Regions from separate parts of the Homo sapiens genome. Here region 1 is linked to region 2. Evidence: fine-mapped expression QTL. A gene starts in region 2. The other region holds a variant in brackets. All regions are shown on one strand. Distances are between the middles of the regions. Region 1 overlaps ABCC3 (ATP binding cassette subfamily C member 3). Region 2 holds the start of ANKRD40 (ankyrin repeat domain 40).

Evidence for each region.
Region 1: its variant is fine-mapped to the expression of ANKRD40 in lymphoblastoid cells after a statin (CAP, PIP 0.93).

What each region holds. Positions count from the first base shown.
Region 1 is chr17:50,667,287-50,676,832 of GRCh38, forward strand. ABCC3 (ATP binding cassette subfamily C member 3) reads left to right here. Exons shown (of 31, transcript NM_003786.4): 12 at 268-471; 13 at 577-723; 14 at 1,144-1,231; 15 at 1,567-1,633; 16 at 1,854-1,980; 17 at 2,066-2,242; 18 at 5,685-5,852; 19 at 6,183-6,372; 20 at 8,076-8,190; 21 at 8,345-8,489; 22 at 8,597-8,804; 23 at 8,992-9,302. Among named protein-coding and RNA genes, the nearest start is that of ANKRD40, 36 kb to the right of the region's middle. The variant A/T (reference allele first, on the strand shown) is at 4,875.
Region 2 is chr17:50,702,088-50,711,457 of GRCh38, forward strand. It overlaps ANKRD40 (ankyrin repeat domain 40), which reads right to left and starts at 5,827. Exons shown (of 5, transcript NM_052855.4): 1 at 5,434-5,827. The coding sequence starts at 5,567. RefSeq lists silencers at 5,163-5,432, 5,563-5,772.

The DNA.
Region 1 (9,546 bases), 35 kb before region 2:
GGCAGGGGACAGAGGATGCTGCCTGGGGAGGCCGGTGCAGTGGCACTGAGGGTGGAGATGGATCTTGTCAGGCAGAGGACACAGGGAGGCAGGGGCTGTGCATTCCAGGCCAAGGCACAGCACAGGCCCAGCAAGGAGTTGTGAGAAGGAATGGTGGGCAGCGTGGAATGGCTGCAATGGATGAGAATGGATGGAAGGTAGGACCCTGTGAGCAGGAGGTCAGGGGAGGGAGCAGGTGTGCCACTGACACTCTTTCTGCCTGCACAGGTAAAGCAAATGAAATTGAAGGACTCGCGCATCAAGCTGATGAGTGAGATCCTGAACGGCATCAAGGTGCTGAAGCTGTACGCCTGGGAGCCCAGCTTCCTGAAGCAGGTGGAGGGCATCAGGCAGGGTGAGCTCCAGCTGCTGCGCACGGCGGCCTACCTCCACACCACAACCACCTTCACCTGGATGTGCAGCCCCTTCCTGGTGAGGCTTGGCACAGGGCTGGGTCCCTGCCTCCAGGGCTCTGGGTGCCCAGGCATGGCCAGGGCTCATTGGACTCTACCCTGACACCACCTCCACGCTGCTCAGGTGACCCTGATCACCCTCTGGGTGTACGTGTACGTGGACCCAAACAATGTGCTGGACGCCGAGAAGGCCTTTGTGTCTGTGTCCTTGTTTAATATCTTAAGACTTCCCCTCAACATGCTGCCCCAGTTAATCAGCAACCTGACTCAGGTAACCCTGGGTAGGGCTGGGGGCTCTACTGGAGTTGGAACAGGTTGTTGGGGTCAGGGAAGGGTCACTTAGGGCAAGGGATAATCAGGGGGAGTTATTGGATTCAGGGAAGGTTGCTAGCATTATGAAGAGCTATTCAAGGTTGAATGAGGTCATTAAGGTCAGGGGTCATTTGGAGTCACAGGTGGTCAGGTCGGGTGTCTGGAAACCTGAGTTCTGTAGATAGCCTCCTCTTACCAACCTGGACTTTCTCTTTGGGCAGTGGGAGCCATGGAAGACTCAGTCGTGGGAGGGACCCCAGTGCTAGTGTCTGGGCCCTCAGGGGGTCCTGCCTAGCCCAGGATGCTGGGGATGGGGCGAGGGTAGGGGTTGGGGGTTGGGAAAGTACAGTCTCTAGGGCTGACTCACATCCTCCCGTAGGCCAGTGTGTCTCTGAAACGGATCCAGCAATTCCTGAGCCAAGAGGAACTTGACCCCCAGAGTGTGGAAAGAAAGACCATCTCCCCAGGTCTAGAGAGCCCCTACCTGGGCTGCCTGCCCCAGTCCTTGCTCCAGAAAAACCTCTGTTTCAAGCTTTTCCTTTGTTCTCTCCTGACCCCTTTTCTTCTTCCTCTGTTCACATCTGCTTCGACTCTGACCTCCTCCCTCTTCCGGGTTCTCTGCTCTCCTCCGCCCTCCTCCACAGGGCTCCCCACATCCCTTTCTTCCTCCCTTTTCCCAAGGATCCCCTCCCCATGGCCCAGGCTCCTCCCCTGTCCTCCTTTCCCCTGCCCCCCAGCCTCCCTGCAGGCTACCCCATCCCTTGAGCTCCCTCCCTGACCCTGCCCACCTTGGTCCTCTCAGGCTATGCCATCACCATACACAGTGGCACCTTCACCTGGGCCCAGGACCTGCCCCCCACTCTGCACAGGTACCAGCTTCTCCCACTCCCTTCCCAGCTGCCCACGGTGGGCTGGAAGTTCAGATCAATAGCAGCACCCTGCAAAGCCTTTGACCAAGAATGCAGGAAGAGCTTCAGCCTGCCAGGGGGGTGTCTGGAAGGGCGGAGGGCTTGGTTCTGCAGGTGGAGGGTTGGAGACCAAAACCCTGATCCCTGCCTCTAACTGGACTCCTGGGGTCCTTGCCCCCAGCCTAGACATCCAGGTCCCGAAAGGGGCACTGGTGGCCGTGGTGGGGCCTGTGGGCTGTGGGAAGTCCTCCCTGGTGTCTGCCCTGCTGGGAGAGATGGAGAAGCTAGAAGGCAAAGTGCACATGAAGGTGAGAGAGGCAGGGGCTCCTGGGCAGGGTGTGGGGCTCAGCCAGGCCTTGGGCAAGCCCCGAGGTAAATTTCTCCTGTGGCCAGGGCTCCGTGGCCTATGTGCCCCAGCAGGCATGGATCCAGAACTGCACTCTTCAGGAAAACGTGCTTTTCGGCAAAGCCCTGAACCCCAAGCGCTACCAGCAGACTCTGGAGGCCTGTGCCTTGCTAGCTGACCTGGAGATGCTGCCTGGTGGGGATCAGACAGAGATTGGAGAGAAGGTACAGAGTCCTCTTCCATCCCTAAGAGGCTAGGGCATAGAGCTGCCCACCTCAACCCAGCCCAGGTCCATATATTCATCCCTTCATTCACACATTGGTGTAACGTTATGCCCAACTCTGTGCCAGGCACTGGGGAAACAGATCTATTAGCAGATCTGTTTAGTGAACAAGTAGGAACTATTGAATATTCTAGGAGCCAGGCTGAAGGCCTGTGCAGGGTACAGGGAGGGCACAGCAGGGAGCCTACATAAGGAAGAGCATCACTTTTTTTTTTTCTTTCTTTCTGAGATAAGGCCTCACTCTGTTGCCCAGGATGGAGTGCCATGGTGACATCATGGGACGCTGCAGCTTGGAACTCCTGGGCTCAAGTGATCCTCTCGCCTCAGCCTCCTGAGTATCTGGGACCACAGGCACATGCCACCATACCCAGCTAAATTTTTAATTTTTTTTAGAGACAGCGTCTTGCCATGTCGCCCAGGCTGGCTCAGGAGATCCTCCCACCCTGGCCTCCCAGAGTACTGGGATTACAGGCATGAGCTGCTGCACCTGGCTGAGCATCACTTTTTTTTTTTAGACAGAGCCTTGCTCTGTCACCCAGGCTGGAGTGCAGTGGCGCAGATCATGGCTCACTGCAACCTCCACCTCCCGGGTTCAAGCAATTCTCGTGTCTCAGCCACCCGAGTAGCTGGGATTACGGGTGCGCACCACCACACTTGGCTAATTTTTGTGTTTTTAGTACAGACGGGGTTTTGCCATGTTGGCCCATCTGGTCTTGAACTCCTGGCTTCAAGTGATCCCCCCGCCTCAGCCTCTCAAAGTGCTGGGATTACAGGCATGAGCACCGTGCCTAGCCTTAAGCATCACTTTTGACCTCAGTTTTAACAACTGAGGAGGAGGAGCTCATCATGTATCTGTTCATTCATTTACCATATATTTATTAAGCACCCACTCTATTCTGGGAAATAGTATACAGTAGTGAATACTAAAATGCCGGGCTAATATCTCTACCTTCATATAGCTCACATTCTAGTGGCAGGAAGAGATAATAAGTAAGATAAATAAGTACAATATATAATATGTTAGATAAATGCTCAGTGGAAAAAATAAAGCGGGGAAGGAATACAGGAATGCCTGCAGAGTTGAATGGTTAAGGTAGCTTGGGAAATCCTCACTGAGAATCAGAGAACTCAACAAAGAGACCGAGTGAGCCTTGTCTGGAGCCAGAAAGCTCTGTCTGGGGCCATGGAACCCTGTATGGGGTCTTGGAGTTCTCTGGCATGACTAGGAGTTGGGAAATGGAGGGAAAAGATAGAGAGAGGCAGAACCCTGATTACCTTGGTTAAGATTTTGGCCTTTACTCTAAAAAACATGGAACACTGGGGAAAATTTGGGGCTTTGCTTTTTAACAATTTTTAACTGTGGTAAAAACCACACATAACATAAAATATATCATCTTGCCCGGCATGGTGGCTCCCAGCACTCTGGGAGGCTGAGGCAGGTGTATCATTTGAGGTAAGGAGTTCAAGGCCAGCCTTGCTAACATGATAAAACCCCATCTCTACTAGAAATACAAACAAATTAGCCGAGTGTGATGGCGTGTGCCTGTAGTCCCAGCTACTCAGGAGGCTGAGGCAGGAGCATTGCGTAAGCCCAGGAGGCGGAGGTTGCAATGAACTGAGATTGATTGTATCACTGCATTCCAGCCTGGGCGACAGAGCAAGACTCTGTCTTAAAAAAAAAAAAAAGAAAAAAAAACTTAATCATTTCTTAGTGTACAGTTCAGCAATGTTAAGTACATTTACATTGCTGTGCAACCGATCTCCAGAACCTTTTCATCTTGCAAAACTAAAATTGTGCCTATTAAGCAACTCCTCATTCCCCACTGCCCCTAGGCCCCAGTAACCACCATTCTATTTTCTGTTCCTAGGAATTTGACTACTTAGTATCTTAGTCCATTTTCTATTGCTTATAAGAGAATGCCTGAAACTAGGTAATTTATAAAGAAAAGAAATGTATTTTGTACAGTTACGGAGGCTGAAGAGTCCACGGTCCAGGGGCTGCATCTGGAGAGGGCCTCCTTGTTGGCGGGGAGTCTGCAGAGTCCCAAGGCCATACAGGGCATCCCATGGCAAGGGGACCGAGCATGCTAGCTCAGGTCTCTCTTCCTTCCTTCCTTTTTTTTTTTTTTTTTTTTTTTTTTTTTTGAGACAAGGCTTCACTCTGTTGCCCAGACTGTAGATTGGAGTACAGCGGCGTGATCTTGGCTCACTGCAACCTCCGCCTCCCAGGTTCAAACGATTCTCCTTCCTCAGCCTCCCGAATAGCTGGGATTACAGGCGCACGCAACTACAGCCCGACTAATTTTTGTATTTTTAGTAGAGATGGGTTTCACCATATTGGCCATGCTGGTCTTGAACTCCTGACTTCAAATGATCCACCCACCTCGACCTCCCAAATTGCTGGGATTACAGGCATGAGCCACCACGCGCGACCTCAGGTTTCTCTTTCTTTCTTATAAAGCCACCGGTCCCACTCCCCCAGTAACCCATTCACGCATCAACCTATTAATCCATAAATGGATCAACCATTCATGAGGGCTCTGTTTTCATGACCTAATCACCTGGTAAATGCC[A/T]CCCCTCAATCCTGCCACACTGGGGGGTAAGTTTCAACATGCACTTTGGAAGGAACAAATATTTCAACCATATCACCTAGGTACCTCACGTAAGTGGAATCATCCAGCATTTGTCTTTTCGTGACGGGCTTATTTCACTTAGCATAATGTCCTCAAGGCATATCCATGTTGTAGCATGTGTCAGAATTTCCCTCCTTGTAAGGCTGAATGATATTTCATTATAGGTATATACACATTTGTGTGCCCATTTATCCGTAGATGGGTTGGGCAGGACACCAAGCTGGGCAGGGTGGTGACCAATGGAGCAGAATGGCCTCACCTGCCCCAGGAGGACTTACCCTTTACCTCTGTCCCTCACAGCATTGCAGGGACAGACTAGGCCCCATGTGAAATATAGATTCAGAAGACTGCTGTTCTGGTCAGGCACAGTGGCTCACACCTGTAATCCCAGCACTTTACTTTGGGAGGCTGACGTGGGCCAATTGCTTGAGCTCAGGAGTTGGAGACCAGGCTGGGCAACATATGGAGATTCTGTCTCTATAAAAAATAAAACATTTTAGTCAGTAGCCAGGCATGGTGGTCCTGCAATCAATCCTAGCTACTCGGGAGGCTGAGGCATGAGAATTGCTCAAACGCGAGAGGCAGAGGTTGCAGTGAGCCAAGATCGCACCACTGCACTCCAGCCTGGGTGAGTGAGACCCCATCTCAGGAAAAAAAAAAAAAAATCTGCCATCCCAAATAACAGTGGACAGGCCGTTGTCTCCCTGTGCCTGTCTGACCCCATTTTTCCCACCCCCCGCCTCCCTCCAGGGCATTAACCTGTCTGGGGGCCAGCGGCAGCGGGTCAGTCTGGCTCGAGCTGTTTACAGTGATGCCGATATTTTCTTGCTGGATGACCCACTGTCCGCGGTGGACTCTCATGTGGCCAAGCACATCTTTGACCACGTCATCGGGCCAGAAGGCGTGCTGGCAGGCAAGGTGAGGCCTGCCAGAGGCTAAGGGGGCTAAGGTGAGATCTGAGGCCCGAAGAGAGAGCTGGTGAGAGGCTGAGGGGTTTGGATGAGACTTGGAGGTGTGGGGGGCGCAAGAAGTGGGCATGTGGGTTGGGCATCAGGAGAAACCTGTGGGGACAACTCCCCCACCTGCGAGGTTCTGAGCAGGCTGTGGCGAGCACAGGGTGAGTCACCCATGTGCCTGTCCAAGCTCCCTGGCACATGGGCACACTTCACACTCACTCTGTGGCTCCGTGCCTGTGCCAGGGGTGTGCTGGAGGGTGGTAGGGGTGAGAGCCTGCTGCCTTCTCCCCAGACGCGAGTGCTGGTGACGCACGGCATTAGCTTCCTGCCCCAGACAGACTTCATCATTGTGCTAGCTGATGGACAGGTGTCTGAGATGGGCCCGTACCCAGCCCTGCTGCAGCGCAACGGCTCCTTTGCCAACTTTCTCTGCAACTATGCCCCCGATGAGGACCAAGGGCACCTGGAGGACAGCTGGACCGGTATCTGCCATCCTGGGCCCTCTGATTCCCATGCCTTCCCAGCATTCCCCCTGTCTGGGGTCTCTGAGTGTGTCTAGACTGGCCTAGTGTTGTGCCAGGCAGGTTCTGGGAAACTTGGGCCATCTGTGTGACAGTCACCAGAGGTAAAGTAAACTGGACATAGTCGGGTCCCACTGCCTCCTCCATCCTACTCTACCCTAACTGTGGGAACTCAGATCCTCCGCCCCGGTCTCAGAGCCTGTTTTCTTTCTTTCTTTCTTTCTTTCTTTCTTTCTTTCTTTCTTTCTTTCTTTCTTTCTTTCTTTCTTTCTTTCTTTCTTTCTCTCTCTCTCTCTCTCTCTCTCTCTCTCTCTCTCTCTCTCTCTCTCTCTCTCTCTCTTTCTTTCTTTCTTTCTTTCTTTCTTTCTTTCTTTCTTTTTTTTCTTTTGAGGCAGAGTCTGGCTCTGTCGCCGGGCTGGAGTGCAGTGGTACAATCTCAGCTCACTGCAACCTCTGCCTCCCAGGTTCAAGTGATTCTCCTGCCTCAGGCTCCCGAGTAGCTGGGACTACAGGCATGCGCCACCACGCCTGGCTAATTTTTGTATTTTTAGTACAGACATGGTTTCACCATGTTGGCCAGGATGGTCTCGATCTCTTGACCTCGTGATCTGCCTGCCTCGGCCTCCCAAAGTGCTGGGATTACAGGTGTGAGCCACCTTGCCCGATCTCAGAGCCTGTTTTCCATCTGTTGAAAGCATAGGAGGGCCCAGGCCCAGCTTGTGTGGCAAGGCTGCTTCATGGATAAATAGTTTGGCAAGTATGCAAGTGCTTAGCAAAGCCGCTTATTTATCAACCAAAATTTATTGGACAATCACTATATACAGGCACTGTTCCAGACACTAAGCTATAGCAGTGAGCAAACAAAAAAATTATAGTCCTCATGGAGCTTGTTGACGTCTCTGGGCTCACAACATGCCCCTGGCTCCTTGTTGCCCAGACCCAGCTCCCCAGCCCCCAATTCTGGATTGGCTCACAGACCTTTTCCTGGGCTTTCTTGCCTATGGCTATACATACAGCCAACGTGCCTTGAGCATTTACCAAGTGCTGTGCCCCTCGCTCACACACTGGACACATTTTCTTTTAAGCCTACAGTCATGCAGATTTTTTTTTTTTTTTTTTGGGGACAGTTTCTCACTCTGTTGCCCAGGCTGGAGTGCAACGGTGCGATCTTGGCTCACTGCAACCTTTGCCTCCTGGGTTCAAGCGATTCTCCTGCCTCAGCCTCCCGAGTAGCCAGGATTATAGGTGCCCGCCACCACGCCCGGCTAATTTTTGTATTTTTAGTAGAGACGGGGTTTCACCATGTTGGCCAGGCTGGTCTCGATCTCCTGACCTCGTGAGCTGCCTGCCTCAGCCTCCCAAAGTGCTGGGATTACAGGCGTGAGCCACCATGCCCGACCAAGGACGTGAGTTTTAAGCTCAGCCAGTCTAACTCCAGAGCCCAAGTTCCTAACCCTTGTATTTGAGTCCGTTTCTCCATAATTTGTGAAGAGAGTTTTTCTTGTTGCTTAACCCAAGTCTTTCTTGTTGCCCTTTCAATCCCCCTCATTTTATTTTCATGCTTGTCCATTGAACCCCTTTCATTAGAGTGGGGAATGGGAGATACCAGGGGCTTGCAGGGAGAACTAGCTGAACCCTATCTCCTTCCTCCCACCCTACTGCAGCGTTGGAAGGTGCAGAGGATAAGGAGGCACTGCTGATTGAAGACACACTCAGCAACCACACGGATCTGACAGACAATGATCCAGTCACCTATGTGGTCCAGAAGCAGTTTATGAGGTGAGTTCCTGAGAGCTCCCAGCCCTCCCGGAGGCTGTATCAGGCCTCCCCAGGCCCTGCCAGATGGGGTGCAGGTTTCTCCCTGACACTCCCAGCCTCTGTCCTGGGGGGTGCTTGAGGCCCCCTCCCTGGGCCTGACCAGCTGCCTCCACAGACAGCTGAGTGCCCTGTCCTCAGATGGGGAGGGACAGGGTCGGCCTGTACCCCGGAGGCACCTGGGTCCATCAGAGAAGGTGCAGGTGACAGAGGCGAAGGCAGATGGGGCACTGACCCAGGAGGAGAAAGCAGCCATTGGCACTGTGAGTCGGTGGGGCAAGAGGGGCTGGAGGGGATGGACAGGCAGGCCCCAGCAGCCCCAGGGTTTATGGAGTCCCCTGTCCCTGACTGCCATGGCTGCTCCCTACAGGTGGAGCTCAGTGTGTTCTGGGATTATGCCAAGGCCGTGGGGCTCTGTACCACGCTGGCCATCTGTCTCCTGTATGTGGGTCAAAGTGCGGCTGCCATTGGAGCCAATGTGTGGCTCAGTGCCTGGACAAATGATGCCATGGCAGACAGTAGACAGAACAACACTTCCCTGAGGCTGGGCGTCTATGCTGCTTTAGGAATTCTGCAAGGTGAGCTTGTGGGGGTGTCCAGAAGGGGCTCCAATATCCCTTCTTCTCTGGGCTGCCAGGCCCCCCAAACCGTGCCCTTGCATCCAAGCCTCCCTAACCCACTCTGGTCAACCCGTGTCTCTGATTCTGCCCCTTTGTGCCCGCTCACTAGTCCAGGTGAGCCAGCGCCCTCTGCCTTCTCCAACAGGGTTCTTGGTGATGCTGGCAGCCATGGCCATGGCAGCGGGTGGCATCCAGGCTGCCCGTGTGTTGCACCAGGCACTGCTGCACAACAAGATACGCTCGCCACAGTCCTTCTTTGACACCACACCATCAGGCCGCATCCTGAACTGCTTCTCCAAGGACATCTATGTCGTTGATGAGGTTCTGGCCCCTGTCATCCTCATGCTGCTCAATTCCTTCTTCAACGCCATCTCCACTCTTGTGGTCATCATGGCCAGCACGCCGCTCTTCACTGTGGTCATCCTGCCCCTGGCTGTGCTCTACACCTTAGTGCAGGTGTGGGGTGGGCGTGATTCCAGTGTGGGCGTGGTGTTATTGGGGCGGGGCAACACATGGGCGGGGGCAGCAGGGGTGGGACACTTCAGGCCACCAACATTACAGAGTTTTGTTAGGGGCAGTCGTTGCTTAACATTTATGTTAGGGGAGCCATTACTTAACCTCTTTGAAACTCATTTGCCTCACCTGTAAAATAGAATGACTCATAGACCTTCCTCATGGAGTTGGTGAGAGAATAAAATGA
Region 2 (9,370 bases):
TTGCTTGGCATGTATTAATTAATATTTACTGAATGGGCCAGGCACGGTGGCTCACACCTGTAATCCCAGCACTTAGGGAGGCCAAGGCAGGTGGATCACTTTAGGTCGGGAGTTTGAGACCAGCCTGCCCAATAGGGTGAAACCCCATCTCTACTAAAAATACAAAAATTAGTGTGATGGTGCATGTCTGTAATCCCAGCTACTGGGGAGGCTGAGGCAGGAGAATTGCTTGAACCCAGGAGGTGGAGGTTGCAGCGAGCCAAGATTGTGCCACTGCACTTCAGCCTGGGCAACACAGCAAGACTCCATCTCAAAAAAAAAAAAAGTACCAAATGAGTAAACTAAGGATAAAGTGGACCTTGCTTGAAGTAGAAGGATCCAATCTACCCTTGATTCTGGGCAAACTGGAACCTTGAGTGTGTTTGTGTGTGGATGTCTGTGGCACAGGCTTAAAAAGTGAACAATTATAATGATAAGTGAGCCCTCAAAAATGAATGAAGCATGATGAGAAAAATATGCTCCCTTTTGGAAATAAAATGCTCACTTGCTAGTAGTAGATCACTTGTTCGTGGCAAGCTTGAGAGTAAAGGAGGTAATTTACTACCAGTGGGTCTGAGAGACTCTGGGACAAACCAACTTGCTAAACTACCACCCATGTAAAGCAGGGTTAAGTCAACATAGCGTGGCCCCCACAGCCCTGTGCCTTAGTGATCATCATTTACCGTCCAGAGCTGTGCGGCTCTGGGCAGCCATAACTCAGAGCCCCTGCAGCCAGGTAATATTTTCAAGTTCTTCATGAACCAAGGGTTATGCATGACACTTGAATTACAACTGATGTGGGGGAATGATTAGTGATCAATCTAATTGATAGATTACTCTATCTTTGAACTTCAACTCCTTAAGCTTTACATTTGCAGTCAAAATATCTTATTAGTGTCAGAAACTATTTCAGACCTGAGGCACTGGGTGTCATTCATCAACAGGGCATCACTCATTGGTGCTGAAATTGTGATTACTGAGCAACTAAGACTTGAAAGCAGTCACCATTCTGCTTTGCAAATGCAAGAGAGTACGTTTTTTTGAGGGTAACCTTATATTCCATTATCTAGCATATTGCTTCATAATAAGAAAACAACAACAATGGCTAATACAGGTATAATGCTTTACGTGTTGGACATTGTTCTAAAGGCATTACATGTATTAACTTATTTAATCCTCTAAACCCATGAGGTAATACTACTGTCAACATTCCCCCCATTTTACAGAAGAGGAAACAGACATCAGCAAATAAATAAGCAAAGCACGCAGTACGCTAGGTGGTGATGAAGTATGACAGCAATAGTAAAGCAGGGAAAGGCATTAGGGAATGACAGAGGTTGGAAAGGGGCATTGTGCAACTTTAAATTGAGGGCCCAGGAAAAGCCTTGCCAAGAAGGTGACATCTAAACTAAAATCTGAAGGTGGTGAGGAAGCAAACCATGTGATATCTGGAGGGAAAGCATTTAAGAGAGTGGGAAGACAAAACGCAAAGATCTTGAATCAGGACTGTCTGGTATTCCAGAGAAAGCAAGGAGGCCAGGGGAAAAAGGTAAGCAGAAGGGCAAATCCCATGAGATTAGCACAGAGGTAAGGAGGGAAGATGTGGGGACAGGAAGTAGAAATTGTAGGACCCTGTAGGCTTTTACTGAGTGAGATAGGAGCCATTTTTGAGCAGAGTGAAATGATCTGACTTATGTTTTAAGTCAGGATCCCTCTGACCACTGTGTTAATTAAGAAGACTGTATGATATAAGCTTAGGAGCAAGGACACTAGTAGGAGGCTATTGTAATAATCCAAGCAAGAGAAACAATGGTGGCTTTGTATCAGAGGTGTAGTGGTAGGGTTAGTGAGAAGTAGTCAGATTCTGACTGTATCTGAAGGTGGAGCTCATAGAATTGGCTGACTGGATGTCGGCTATGAAAGACAGGAGGCAAGCAGGAGGCAAGCAGGGTGCCAAGGGTTCTGGCCTGAGCACTCCTGAGAGGCTGAGGACTCAGAGGAGCAGGCTTGAGGTGGTAGAGGGATGAGGGGAGACTTGGAATTCAATCTTGGACATGTTGAGTTTGAGGGGCCTATTAGACAGTTCCTCCAATTAAATCTACAAGAGGCCGGGCGCGGTGGCTCACGCCTATAATCCCAGCACTTTGGGAGGCCGAGGCGGGCAGATCACCTGAGGTCAGGAGTTCGAGACCAGCTTGGCTAACATGGTGAAACCCCATTTCTACTAAAAATACAAAAAACTAGCCAGGCGTGGTGGCACACACCTGTAATCCTAGTTACTTGGGAGGATGAGGCAGGAGAATCGCTTGAACCCAGGAGGTGGAGGATGCAGTGAGCTGAGATCACGCATTGCACTCCAGCCTGGGTGACAAGAGTGAAACTCCATCTCAAAAAAAAAAAAAAAAAAAAAAACCTATAAGAAGCCTCTTCAGGCTACCTCAGAATCACTTCACTAAACACCTCCTATGGGGCAGACATTGTGTTTAGGAGGGTAGGTCTGGCATCAGATACCAGGTTTGTTTTCTGGCTCCACTAGTTACTGTCAATCCTATGACCTTGGGAAGGGGCACTGTGAAAAGTGAGGAAACAACTTACGGTTTCTGGGCCTCAGTTTCTTCATCTGTAAATGGAGAGAACAGTAACTATGTCCCCAGGTAGTTGTGAACAAGCTAACACATGTAAAACACTTAGAACCCTATCTGAGCTGGCCGGGCACGGTGGCTCACGCCTGTAATCCCAGAACTTTGGGAGGCAGAGTCAGGCGGATCACAAGGTCAGGAGATCGAGACCATCCTGGCTAACACGGTGAAACCCCATCTCTACTAAAAATACAAAAAATTAGCCGGGCGTGGTGGCGGGCACCTGTAGTCCCAGCTACTCGGGAGGCTGAGGCAGGAGAATGGCGTGAACCCAGGAGGCAGAGCTTGAAGTGAGCCAAGATGGCACCTGGCACCACTGCACTCCAGCCTGGGCGAGAGTGCGAGACTCTGTCTCAAAAAAAAAAAAAAAAAAAAGAACCCTATCCTATCTGTGCTGCAAAGCAAGTTCAATAAATGTTAGCTATTTATGCTTCATCTCATTAAGGGCTCACAATACTCTTCTGGAACAAGTAGAAAATGAAGCATCTCAGGCAAAGTCCCATAGCTAGGCAGGAATGGAGGAGAACCTGCAGGAAAGACCAGGCTCCTTCTACACAACACCGCCTCCCAGTGCCAAAATGGTAATTCACAGCTTTGAACCAGAGGAATGCTGAGAAAAGGTTACATACACAACAGCAAGTTTGCAAAGACCTGTAAAAAAAAAAAAAAACAGAACAAAAAGGTAGTATCCACTGTTTCCTGGCCTTCTGGACAGCTGTCCAGGCTGTTTTCTTTAGGGAAATTAGGTAGAAAAAAATTTTTTTTTGAGACTGGGATCTCACTATGTTGCCCAGGCTGGTCTCAAACTTCTGGACTCCAGTGATCCTCCTGCCTTGGCCTCCCAAAGTGCTGGGATTACAGGCGTGAGCCACCAGGTCCTACCAGGAAGATAGACTTTTTTTTTTTTTTTTTTTGAGACAGAGTCTCGCTCTGCCACCAGCCTGGAGTGCAGTGGTGTGATCTTGGCTCATTTCAACCTCCAACTCCCTGGTTCAAGTGATTCTCCTGCTGCAGCATCCCAAGTAGCTGGGATGACAGGCACACACCGCTACCCCTGGCTAATTTTTGTATCTTTAGTAGAGACAGGGTTTCACCATGTTGGCCAGAATGGTCTCGAACTCCTGACATCGTGATCTGCCCACCTTGGCCTCCCAAAGTGCTGAGATTACAGGCGTCAGCCACCGCGCCAGGTCCAGGTAGGTAGACTTTTGAGGCAGTCTGGAAACCATGGTTCTGGTGCTATCATATTAATAGTTATGTGGCCTAGGGCAAGTTATTCTCTGTGGTTGAGCCTCTCTCCATTGTCCCTTTCAGTTCCAAAATGGATGATTCCACTTAAAAAAACAAAATGTAAACTCACTTTTTTTTTTTTTTGAGGTAGAGTCTTGCTCTGTCGCCCAGGCTGGAGTGCAGTGGTGCAATCTTGGCTTACTGCAACCTCCGCCTCCCAGGTTCAAGTGATTCTCCTGCCTCAGCCTCCCAAGTAGCTGAGACTACAGGCATGCACCACCACGCCCAGCTAATTTTTGTATTTTTAGTAGAGACGGGGTTTCATCATGTTGGCCAGGATGGTCTTGATCTCCTGACCTCGTGATCCGCCCACCTCAGCCTCCCAAAGTGCTACTCACTTTAACTCTAAGCTAGCAAAATAGTCTGGCTAAGCATTACCTGAATCAAAATTTTAAATTTTAAATGCAGAGAGCGGAATAATGCCACATTCAGTAACTTTCTGTTTTGACCACCAGCAACATCTTAAGATGAGACTCCTTATTTAATTGGGAAGAATTCAATCTGCAGGCAGACATCTAAAGTCTTGGGTGACATTCTGTATTTGAAATTGTAATAAGAAAACTGGCCAGGAACGGTAGGCTCACATCTGTAATCCCAGCACTTTTGGAGGCTGAGGCGGGTGGATCACTTGAGGCCAGGAGTTTGAGACCAACCTGGCCCCATCTCTACCAAAAATACCAAAAAAAAAAAAAAAAAAAATTAGCCGGGTGTGGGGGCGCGTGCCTGTATTCCCAGCTATTTGGGAGGCTGTGGCAGGAGGATCACCTGAGCCGGGGAGGTAGAAGTTGCAGTGAGCCGAGACTATGCCACTGCACTCCACCCTGGGCGACAGGGCAAGACCCTGTCTCAAAAAAAAAAAAAAAAAAAAAAAAAAAAAGAAAGAAAATAATCGATAGGATAAACAAATGAGTTTTCCCTCAAACAGGCAACTACAGGCAGCAGCAGCAAATCGGTTGCAGTGAAACAACAGAGAAGCAGAATGGTGATGCAAATGTGTTTTTTTTTCCTGGTCTTGGCTAAGGAAATCGTGCTAGTTTATAAAATTCATATTTGCTCAGTTGCTTATGCTTTTAGCTCTGCAAGATGCGTTCTCCAGAAGCACCTACGGCAAATTAACTCAACACTCGAATTGGGGTGAGCTCCAACGCATAGTCGCTGAGAATCACTGCCTCCAGCACCGCTCTGACCAAGTGAGCCGGGAGCGCGGGGGAAGGGGGTAGGGCACCAGAGTCCCAGTGGGCGCTGCCCCGAGTGGACCACGTGGGCCGGGATTTGGGCAGGACGCGCTCCCGACCGCACGAGGCATGGGGGCCAGGGCTGGCCTCAAGAGAGCACAATCTCGGAGGCCCGAGGTGGCAGGCCTCGCCGTAGCCAGGCGTCCCGCGCTGGGCCCAGGTCGCGACTGACTGCCCCACGCCTTCCGACCGGCTGCCCTGACCCTAGGCCTCCCCCGCTCCCCACTTACCAGCCGTTGACCTCATTTTGGGAGTTCACATCCACCCCGCTCTCCACCAGTTTCTGCACCTCCCGAATGTCCCCTAAGGCCGCGGCCTCCCGCAGCCTCTCCTGCTGCTCCTTCTGCTCTAGGAGGGCGTTCATCTTCCCACAGCCCCAGGCCCCCGCCCAGGCCCGCCTGCCCCGCCCCGCCCGGGGCCTGTCAGCGCCGCCGCCGTCGCCGCGGCCCGCTCCCGGCCATGGGGAGGGAGCGCGGAACTCGCCCGCCCTGCTCGCGCCGCTGCCCGCGCCCGCCCCGGGACTTCCGCTCCCTCCCGCGGGCCGCCCCTGCTGCTCCCGGCCCGCAGGCCCAGGCCTCCTCCCGGGCCGCGCCTCCCGAAGGCCGGCTCCGGGGGACCCTGTTCAGTGTGACAACGCTGACCCAGATATTTTCCGTTCCGACCCGGGGCTCCGGCGCCCGGGCTGGCTGTTTATGTAACTACTGCACAATATTATATGCCATGATTCATTGACTATTTTTAGACTTCCCCACCCCGCAGTTTCAAGGGAGGAGGACAAGACACATGAAAAGAGAAAAAAGCATAGCTGAGGGCCAGAAAAGCCTTATCCTCTGGTGCAGGCTGTTTACCAGGCATCCAAAATAATTGGTGGGTTCTTTTTATTGGGATTTGGGGTTTTTTTGTTATTTTCCCCCAGTTTGGTTGGCTCCTTTTCCTTATCTGAGCCAATTCGTGCCCAGCAGGATGGGGAAATGGGCTGAAAACGATCCTACTATAATACGCCCATTATTACAGAGATAGATTAGACTCTTCTTCTTTTTGACAGTGCTTGGGGACAATTCAGTTAGAATATTTATTTCAATTGTTGTTGTTTTACATCTCATTTTAGACAGGATTTCTTCTAACCTGGCTTTCAGGAAAAATATTTATATTGTGCTCACAGTTTATGAACTGTAATTACTGCTTACAGATTGTAATTAGTTACTCTTCATGAAGGCCATATAAGGAGAAAAGAAAGGAAAAACACCAAAGAGGCTTTGGAGGTGTCCTGGTCCTGATTCCAAGTGCTCTGGGAAGAGCTGTGGTGTACATGTAAACAGCATTTTGCTTCACTTCTTGCCCGATCTATCTAATGAGGCTCAGAGCCTCAGTTGGCACTGTTTTATACCCAGTGGGAGAAAAAGGAAATATTGTTTTGTTGAGCCCAGGTGCCCTGAAGAGATCCTCCGATGTGGCACAGGATGGAACTTTACAGATGGGGTCAAGATTAAGGAAATAGCCCTGGGGAGGAAGGGAGGAAGGCCTGAACAAGGAGAGATGAAATAGGAAGGGATAAATTTAGGCATGGAGTTTTCATTTCCGTCTCTTGGGGCTGCTGGGATCTGCACAGCAAGCATTTTTCTTGCTACAGTTTAAGAAAAACCAATGTCTGTTTGTTTAGTATGATACAGTAATTCACACAGTACACAGTGCACACCAGGTGGTGCTGAATATAAACTGACTACACACTTAAATTGACCCCCATGGCAAATTGTAACCCTGCTTGAGCTTACATTTTCATTTGTTCCCCCAATTTAAATTTTAATTCTCACATCCAGCATGATACTCTATCTGAAACTGATGTGTATGGCACTGGATTTGAGTCCTTCAACACAATTTCAGTGACATGGGAGTAGGTAGTGGCTTGTTGTTTTTGTTTGCTTGTTTTTGAGACAGAGTCTCACTCTGTTGCCCAGGCTGGTGTTCGGTGGGGCGATCTCTGAGCTCCTTGCAACCTCTAAGTCCAGGTTCAGGCAATTCTCCTGCCTCAGCCTCCCGAGCAGCTGGGATTACAGGCCTGTGCCACCATGCTCGGCTAATTTTTGTATTTTTAGTAGACATGGGGTTTCACCATGTTGGCCAGTCTGGTCTCCAGCTCCTGACCTCATGTGATCTGCCAGCCTCAGCCTCCCAAAGTGCTGGAATTACAAGCATGAGCCACCGCGCCTGGCCTGTTTTTGTTTTTTTGTTGTTGTTGTTTTTTGTTTTTAATGCAGTTAAAAAAAATTGTTCGTGACTGCACCCCAAAGTCTATGAGTTCTTTTTTTTTTTTTTTTTTTTTTGAGATGGAGGAGTTTCGCTCTCATTGCCCAGGCTGGAGTGCAACAGCGCGATCTCGGCTCACCACAATCTCCACCTCCCAGGTTCAAGCGATTCTCCTGCCTCAGCCTCCTGAGTAGCTGGGATTACAGGCATGTTCCACCATGCCTGGCTAATTTTTTGTATTTTTAGTAGAGACGGAGTTTCTCCATGTTGCTCAGGCTGGTCTCAAACTCCCGACCTCAGGTGATCCGCCCGCCTCAGCTTCCCAAAGTGCTGGAATTACAGGCATGAGCCACCGCGCCCGGCCCCCAAAGTCTATGAGTTCTCTTTATGAGAGTTTGTCAAATGTCCCTTCCTTAAAAGGATTATAGCATGTACCCTACATAACTGCTGTATCCGTGAATATTAGTAGATCTTCTTAAACTCAACCTCTACTTACTCTGATTTCAGTCTTCTGTTTATTATCTTCAGATTAAAAAAAACAAAATTTTATCCACAAACAAAACTTCTGATCTTGGATATAACTGAATGTAACCTGCTGGCTGTTCTATTACTACTTCCATTTATCTCTACTCTGTCTTGTCTCTAGGGAACTACCTAACTCACTGAACTGTATTAAGCATGTGCTGTTTGCCAGGCACTGTTCTAGTCACTGAGGATGCTGCTGCAAATGAATCAGAGTCCTTGACTTTGAAGAACAGTTTATCAGGGGAGACAAGGCGAACAATAGAATGTGCTATGCATTACAATAGAAACAATGTGGCATAGTGGTAGTGAGTGTGGAGACAGACGCCAGACTGCCTGGGTTTGTATGCCAGCTTTGCCACTCATATAATCTTGAATGAGTTACTCAACTTTCCTGTGCCTCAAATTCTGCACCTGCGAAACAGGAATAATAGTAGCACCCACCTTGCAGGATTGTTCTATGGATTGAATGAATGGATATGTGCAAAGCCTAGACATCTTAAACATTCATTGGATCATAGGTGGGTTACAACAAGGTTTACGTTAGGAAAACTTAACCTGGCAGAATGGGAGGGCAGTGGTGGTCAAGAAACAAGGATAATGTTCGGGTTTCTGGATGATTAGATGGTGGTGTGATTTATTGAGATTTGGGACAAAGGATGAAGAGAAGGTTTGAGGTTTGGTCATGAATTCACTTTTGAATCTGTTGACTTGAACTTTCTGAGACCTTTTAATTACTACTACTCTTTACTATCTGCTACTATCAACTCATTGCCAGGTGCTGCAGGAAGTGCTGTACATGGATTATCTCATTTAATCCTCACAACAACTCCTCTGTAAAACAGGACCATCATTATTATCTGAGGCTCAGGGAGGTAATTAACTTGCCCCAGTGCTGGCCAGGCACGGTGGCTCATGCCTGTAATCACAGCACTTTGGGAGGCTGAGGCGGGCAGATCACCTGAGGTCAGGAGTTTGAGACCAGCGTAGCCAACATGGCGAAACCCCGTCTCTACTAAAAATACAAAAATTAGATGGGCGTGGCGGCAGGTGCTGGAGGCAGAGGTTGCAGTGAGTCAAGATCTCGCCATTGCACTCCAGCCTGGGCAACAGAGTGAGACTCTGTCTCAAAAATAAATAAATAAATAAATAAACAAACTTGCCCAATGCTATACATCGTAGTTTGTGATGGAGCAAGGCTTTGAACTCAAGTTCAACTTCTGAGCCTGTGCTTTCTTTTCTGATTTTCATTTAAATGGATATGTTCAGTAAACAGTTATGTGAATGGGTATTGCATTTAGGAAGGAGATCTGGGCTGGTGATTTGTATTTTGGCAGTCAGCAAAGGGTGCTAGCTGAAGTCATGGGAATAGAAGAGATAGCCCCAAGGGAGTCTGTGAGT